Linked DNA regions of Homo sapiens. The protein of the gene in region 1 interacts with the protein of each later gene in a pairwise test. Each region holds a gene or a part of one and is shown in the gene's direction. Other genes may lie near its edges.

What was found. Proteins that work in one complex are often made in the same cells at the same time.
Region 2: the proteins of SAR1A (region 1) and CD53 interact in binary tests that used the Homo sapiens proteins (3 or more experiments, as listed by UniProt).

What each region holds. Positions count from the first base shown.
Region 1 is NC_000010.11:70,169,122-70,172,721, reverse strand, and holds the start of SAR1A (small COPII coat GTPase SAR1A), read left to right. Parts: upstream 1-2,207; 5' UTR 2,208-2,309; intron 2,310-3,600. UniProt on the Homo sapiens protein: Small GTPase that cycles between an active GTP-bound and an inactive GDP-bound state and mainly functions in vesicle-mediated endoplasmic reticulum (ER) to Golgi transport.
Region 2 is NC_000001.11:110,889,976-110,893,747, forward strand, and holds part of CD53 (leukocyte surface antigen CD53), read left to right. Parts: intron 1-1,416; 5' UTR 1,417-1,433; coding exon 1,434-1,496; intron 1,497-2,369; coding exon 2,370-2,558; intron 2,559-3,772. UniProt on the Homo sapiens protein: Structural component of specialized membrane microdomains known as tetraspanin-enriched microdomains (TERMs), which act as platforms for receptor clustering and signaling.

The sequences.
Region 1 (3,600 bases):
AAAGCGCTGGGATTACAGGCATGAGTCACCACGCCCGGTCTAGATTTTCAATCATACCCAGAAAGGTCTTCTCATTGCAAAATTATAAGGAATCCATGCTTTCTTCTGTTTTTCTAGTACCTTTATAGTGTCATTTCAAAATACACACATCTTTTCATCACTTGAAACTTGTTTAGAGTAATAAACTTTTGGAGATTCAACCTGTAGGTTTTTTTGACTACCCAATTGTCTCAACCCCTTTTATTATTTATTAATTTATTTAACAACACATAACAGAATCATTTATTGAAAACAGTACTCTGGAAAAACTATGTGCACAACAATGCCTGTTTCACCCATTTTACAGTGGGTACATGGTGGTCTGGGGCATTCGTCAACTTGCTCAAGCCTTTAGGTAAGTAGAGTTTGCGGCTTTTCTGAGAATCTGCCTGCATGTTCCCTCCTTCCCCAGCCTCCCAAGCCATCCTGTGGTTCAGACACCTCCACCTCGTGCAGCCAGGCTCTCAACAAAGCCAGTAATCCAATGTGTTGGCTTGCACTGGGCTTGCATCTGTGTCTCCAGGATGCACAAGGGGTTCCAAGCCCCATGGACACATTGTCCCTGGTTTAGCTAAAGCTGGTGAGAAGCCTCAGAAGTGGCCTGACACCTTTCTGTGACAGGACAGGGTTCAAATTCAACATCTAAGACCCCAGGATGAGCGGAGGGTAGAGGGTGGTGAGCTTGCCCACTCAGCTCCCTGAGTATTGCTGGAGTCCCAGGTGCTACTTTAGTTTTATTTCTGCATGTACTTTAGTCATTTCTGTACTTTGCTCTGTTCCATTGTGTTTTTTGTGTGTGTGTGTTTGTGCATGTGCACGCACACCAGTTTTAATAACTTAGGCTCTATAATATGTTTTAATATCCAACAGGGTTAGTTCCCACCTCCTTGTTCTTCATTTTGAAAGCCTGTTTCTGGACTAGTTTTGTTTGGTTTTCTATACGAATTTTAGGAACAAATAGGGTAATTAAAAAAAAAGAACGAAACCACACACGACCTATTAATCCTATTAGTACTTTTATTGGGATTATGTTAAATTTAAATTTTACTAAAGGAGAATTGAGATCTTCATGAACCCACAGACGTCATTCATCTTTCCATTAGACTGTTTTATTTGTAAAATGAGAGTAATAATAGTACCAATCTCGTGGGACTGTCCTGAGAATTAAATGAGAAAATGCATGCGAAATATACTGGGGTGAACACGTTGCTTTGCCACTTAGCTGTGTGAACTTGGGCATGGTAGGTTATTCTGAACATTGCTCTCTCATTTGTCAATAAGGATAATACTAGCATCTGGAGTCACAGGACTCCAATGACGGTGAAATTAGACAAAGCGTGCAAAGTACCCAGTGCTCTGCCTGGAACATAAGTGCACAATAAATATTAGCTGTTTTTCTGTTTTTCTAAAACATAGGCCACCCCAGGGCAAGGAAGTGCGACTCAAAGCAAAAGCAGCTGGGCGCGGTGGCTCACGCCTCTCATCCCAGCATTTTGGAAGGCCGAGGCCAGCGGATCACTTGAGGTCAGAAGTTCGAGACCAGCCTGGCCAACACGGTGAAACCTGTCTCTGTAAAAATACAAAAAAATTAGCCAGGTGTGGTGACATGCGCCTGTAGTTCCAGCTACTCGGGAGGCCGAGGTATGAGAATCGCTTGAATCCGGGAGGTGGAGGTTGCAGTGAGCCGAGATCGCGCCACTGCACTCCAGCCTGGGCGACAAAGTGAGACTCCGCCTCAAAAAAAAAAAAAAAAAAAAAAAAAGCAAGGAAGAAAAAAAGCAAAAGCTTGGAGGGATCCACCTCAAGTGGAGGGCCCCAAGGTCAACTCATCTTTCCCAGGACCTATGTCACCGTCGGTACCCACTTCTGACTTTCCTGGTGCGTCTGGAATGGGAAGCCGCGATCCCGAGTGTACCAGGCCGCTCAGGGACTCCAGGACCCAGCCCCGGACCCAGGGTTCCGGCGCTGCCACGTCTCGCGCGGTCAGCTAGCCAGACGGGAGCAGGCGGGGCCGAGGCGGGGCCAGACCCCGAGCGCGCTTTGTCACGCCTTATGCCCGCCCCTCCGCGGCCCGAGTCGCTGGTGGGACGGCACCGGGGCAGAGAGGCGTAACGCTGTGAGGGGGCGGGGCCCATTACGCGCCCGGAAGTCCCGGGGAGGGGTGTGACGTACATCCGGCGAGTAGCTGGCGGTCCCGGGTGCTGCTGGTTAGTGTGCTCTGAGGGAGGGTCCGAGCCAGCCGCTGTTTTGCCGGAGGAGCCCCTCAGGCCGTGAGTCTGAGGGTCGCGTCGGGGAGGGGAGTTGGGGCTCGAGGGGCTGGGACGGAAGGCGGGGAGGTCGGAGCGGAGGCTGGCCCTGGCGGGGTTGGGTGGGGGGGAAGTGACACGCAGGCGGTTCTGTGGGGCCGCGGGGCTGATTCTGGGCGGGGACGGGACAACTTGGCCAGATCTGCTCCGTCCCCTGCTGTCCTCTTTGCCTGGGGTCCACTTGCATTCCGCTCGGGGGTCTCGCAGCTGCTGGGCCGGATAACAGTTTCTTGTCTGTACCGTGCGCTCCGGTTTACGAAATGGCTCCATGTCCTCTGTCTCGGAAGAGCCTCACAGCCCTCGGTGAGGCGGGTGGGAGCCCTTTATGATTATCCTTGTTTTGTAGACTCGGAGACTGAGGCTGGCCAAGGCTCCGCAGTTAGCGAGTGTGAGCGCTCGAACCTGGTCTACAGGCCCCTAGTCCAGGGCTTACCCCCAAGTCAGCGCTTGGTTGTCTTCCGATGGCCCGGGTCGAACCCTGTATTTTCTCCTTCTCCCTTCCCCTTTTCCCCTGTCTGGTCTCTGCATGGAAAAATTTCCTTATGTGCATTTGACATGGATTAGCGTTTTCTTCACGATTCTAGCCAGTGGGTCAGGAGCATCTTTGTCTTGTTGATTCCATCGGCTTCGGTTGCGACAGGGGGCTTAGGGAGATTCGCCATGGGGCTGACCTTTGACATTTACCCCGCAGCTAAGCAGAGTTAGCTAAAAGCCAGCCGCCTACTACCCCAAATCTGCCTGGAATGGCGTCTTAAAGTTGCCCTGATTATGTATAACAAGTAATGCGTAAATTTTTAAATTGGCTAATGGTCAGATTGGTGCCCTCCTTTTCTATTAACATTTGTTTGAATCATTTAGCCCTGGAATTCGCAAGTTTTCATTTTAGGTACATTAATAGTGTTTTGTTGATAGTTTAGAGACCTACCTTAAATTTTAGATTACTCTTAACTTCTCGTAAGGTGGTACAATGGACCAAGAATAGAAAATAAATAGAATGCTAGTTATTAAAATACCATTCAAAAGATGTGATGAGTTGTAAGGAAGAGAACTTCGGAAGATCATCCTCTGTGTAGTTGGTGGGTTAAAGAAGTTTTAGTTTTTTTTTTTTTCCCCAGCAATTTTGTGGTTTGGGTTTGAATTTTATGTACTGTTAACAGGAAGAGCTTAGGCTTTGGTGTTAGAGATGAGGGTTTAAGCCCTGGCACTATTACTTTTTCAACTGAGCCGTCTTAAAGGACTCAGCAAAACTAGGAGT
Region 2 (3,772 bases), on another chromosome or scaffold:
GAGATAGATACAAGTATTTGGTGTTTACAACAGAGAAATTCACTTTATTGTGGAAGAGAAGTAGCTCATCAGGCTTATCTACAGCCTGGATGAACTATTCCCTCAAGACCATGTGATTCCCAGGTACCTTGAAACTGCAAAGGAGATACTATGGATTGCACAAGTGACCCATGCACTGGAAAAGGCATAATTTTAATGGAAAAAAATCACTGCCCCAACATTCTGCTTGATATATCAGTCCTGTGCACGGTTTTAAAAATGAGTCACTTTATAGAATATCATTACCTCTGACAGAAAATTCAAAATTCTGGCCAGGTGCGGTAGCTCATGCCTGTAATCCCAGCACTTTGGGAGGCCGAGGCAGGCGGATCACCTGAGGTCAGAAGTTTGAGGCCAGACTAGGCAACATGGTGAAACTTCGTTTCTACTAAAAATACAAAAATTATCCGGGCATGATGGTGCATGCCTTTAGTCTCAGCTACCTGGGAGGCTGAGGTGGGAGGATCACTTGAGCCTGGGAGGTGAAGGTTGCAGTGAATTGAGATTGTGCCACTGCACTCCAGCCTGGGTGACAGATTGAGACCCTGAAAGAAGAAAGAAAGAAAGAGAGAAAGAGAAAGAGAAAGGAAAGGAAAGCGAAAAGGAAAAGTCAAAATTCTGTATCTGGATTTCTAGAATTGAGAACCAGACATTGGACATTGATGTCCTCACTAAGAAAATGATATTCTAGTTGAAAAAAATAAAGCTTACATTGCTATCTCTTTTTACTTCCCCATTGCATATTTGTTGGCTTGTTTTATCTTTGCTGTAAGACTGTTGTCTTCTGGAGGATAGCTACTGCTTAGTCATGGTTGCATCTTCCACAACATCTAGAACAGAAAACATAAATGTTTCTGCAATAAAAGAATAAATGAGGCGTGGATATGTTCCCCCTACTTTCATGTGGAGAAGTTTACTGATCAAATGTAGCATGTACATAAATCACAGAGTATTTAAGAAACTGGCTGATCAAGCTGTTGGCTTTCTTGATGGCTGATTGACCAGTCCATCCCTGACTTCAAGGGCTTAAGTGCCCAGGCACTAGTTGCTAATGCTGCAGTTAGAGCTAAAGCACTGGCCTGGTCTCTGTCACTGTGACTCATCCTCTTCTAAGAATGGCTCTATTTTCTTCTACAATACTTAATTCAATGTTAAGCATTGTTGGCTTGCCGAATTGGGCAAAAACTGAATGTCTAAGATGAGCCAGTTGGTATTTCAGTTTAGAACTAGGAAAGCGCAGAGTTTGGGGAAACTTTCCAGAGGAGAGCCACAGCTCAAACCCAAGGTAATGCTAGAGATCCCTGAACATTTGTGCACTCTGATCTCTGGCTACCTTACAGAGTGAGGTAACTTACTTTCTTCTTCCTTATTCCTTAGGGCAAGAATATCACGGCATGGGCATGAGTAGCTTGAAACTGCTGAAGTATGTCCTGTTTTTCTTCAACTTGCTCTTTTGGGTAAGTGTATCTCTTCTGAGCACGGTTTAGCTCACCTTTACCCAGCTAAGCTCTCCTCATTCCTCTACTGAAGAGGCTGGTGTGGGGTAAAATGCATGCGTGTTTGGGTCATGTCCAGCACAACCATCCTAGAAACAAAAGAGTAATAATTTTTCCCCTCTTCCTGCCACAGAATAAACCTGCAAAATTGAAAGGTACCAGTGCAGTTATTAATGGAGGTGCTGTTTCTCTCTGAGGGCTTTAGTTTACTACTACTCGTAGCTAACATATATAGGTGAGAAACCTGAGACTGTGCTCTGGATATTGAGTGCCTCTGTTTTTCTTGTCTTTTTTTCTAGATTCCTTGAAACAATAAGTGATTGAAAGGAAAGTCACCCTTTCCAGGGAGGTTTCACTGTATAAAATTCAGCAATTGAATTTCAGATATAGGATGGGTTGGTACTTGTGTATATGAGAAGATTATTATAAGTTTGGCTTCTCTAGTTTTCTGCCTAGCAAGATGAGCTTCCTCAAGCAGGGCATCTTCTCTACATGGTCATGGTTTCTACAGAGAAAGCCATGTGTGAGCGACTGAAAAGATAAGGAAAAAGAAGTTAGACCTATATATGGTGAAGATACTGTGTGGCTCACAGAAGTGATCTTTCCTTGGTATCTGGAGATGGGTAGGAAGAGTTGTGAGTAGGTCTCCACATGAGAAAGCTGAGATTGCCTCTCCAATGTAAGCATGGAAAAGTTTGGTAAAGAAATTGTTCATGAGACTCTTGATTGAGCCAGTTAAAAATAAAGTGATTCTGATCTCAAGGAAGTGAGAATATGAGGAGATACCCAAGAACCACATTTTGCTTCAGGATGTTGTGGGATTCTTCCTTTCAGATCTGTGGCTGCTGCATTTTGGGCTTTGGGATCTACCTGCTGATCCACAACAACTTCGGAGTGCTCTTCCATAACCTCCCCTCCCTCACGCTGGGCAATGTGTTTGTCATCGTGGGCTCTATTATCATGGTAGTTGCCTTCCTGGGCTGCATGGGCTCTATCAAGGAAAACAAGTGTCTGCTTATGTCGGTGAGTCCTTACAGCAGATGTGGTGCCCCAAGTCGGGGAGATGGTGCCTAAATCCCAGGCAAGATGTTTCTTGGTAGATCACTTATAGGCACAGAAAGATCATAGGAAAATGAGATTGGTACCTCAGATCAGCCAAGTCTGCCCAGACCAATAGTATATTATGTATGACTAGGGTCCCACGGACAGGTGAAAGAGGGCATTGCTATCCCCCTTGTAGCCATTTTTATATTGCTAATAATGACTTTTGTCATTATTGTAATTCCCCTTTATAGCATTTTATTTTTTCTTTATGTCTGGATGAAATCAGGTGTCATCCATCTTCCAAAATCCTCCTCATGCTAGCTATTATTATGTACTTTCAGATTCTGACTGAGAGTCGCTAACTAATGGAAAATAATTTCTAGGCTCTTTCCTCCCCAAATGCCAAAGGATGCTTCCTTAACTCATGTCTGCACAAGATACTCCGTAGAGAGATCCAACTTAGGTGAGGGCTCTGGCTGCAGCCATTGAGGTCTAATGTGAGAGATGCTACAGCCTTTTGCATGTTCCCTATCAGGTACTATCCTGAGGAGTACCTTAAGGCTTAGGTTTTGCCTGTAAGCACAGTGCCTGTAGAGCACTGAGCTCTACATTTCTGTAGTGTTCCCAGAACAGAGCTTGGTGTAACAGTGCCACTCTACCAATAGGCGTGGGTTTCTAATCACATTGGTTCTTCCTTAAATCATTTGGTTAATCTTTTTTCCATTATGGTTCAACATTTTGGTGGTGGTTTTTTGTTTTGTTTTTTTCTTCTTGTTGTTGTTTTGGAGATGGAGTTTCACTCTTGTTGCCCAGGCTGGAGTGCAATGGCATGATCTCAGCTCACCACAGCCTCCGCCTCCCGGGTTCAAGCCATTCTCCTGCCTCAGCCTCCCGAGTAGCTGGGATTACAGTCATGCGCCACCATGTCCGGCTAATTCTGAATTTTTAGTAGAGACAGGGTTTCTCCATATTGGTCAAGCTGGTCTCTAACTCCCGACTTTAGGTGATCCACCTGCCTCGGCCTCCCAAAGTGTTGGGATTATAGGCGTAAGCCACTGCGCCCAGTCTGTATGGGTCAACTCTTAAACTGGAGCCAAGAGAAAGAATTTTTTAAAAAGTCCCTCTTCTCAGATAGTTGTCAGACTAATGGCAAAGGATGGAAGATAGCAGACATGGGGTAAGGCAAATGTTTT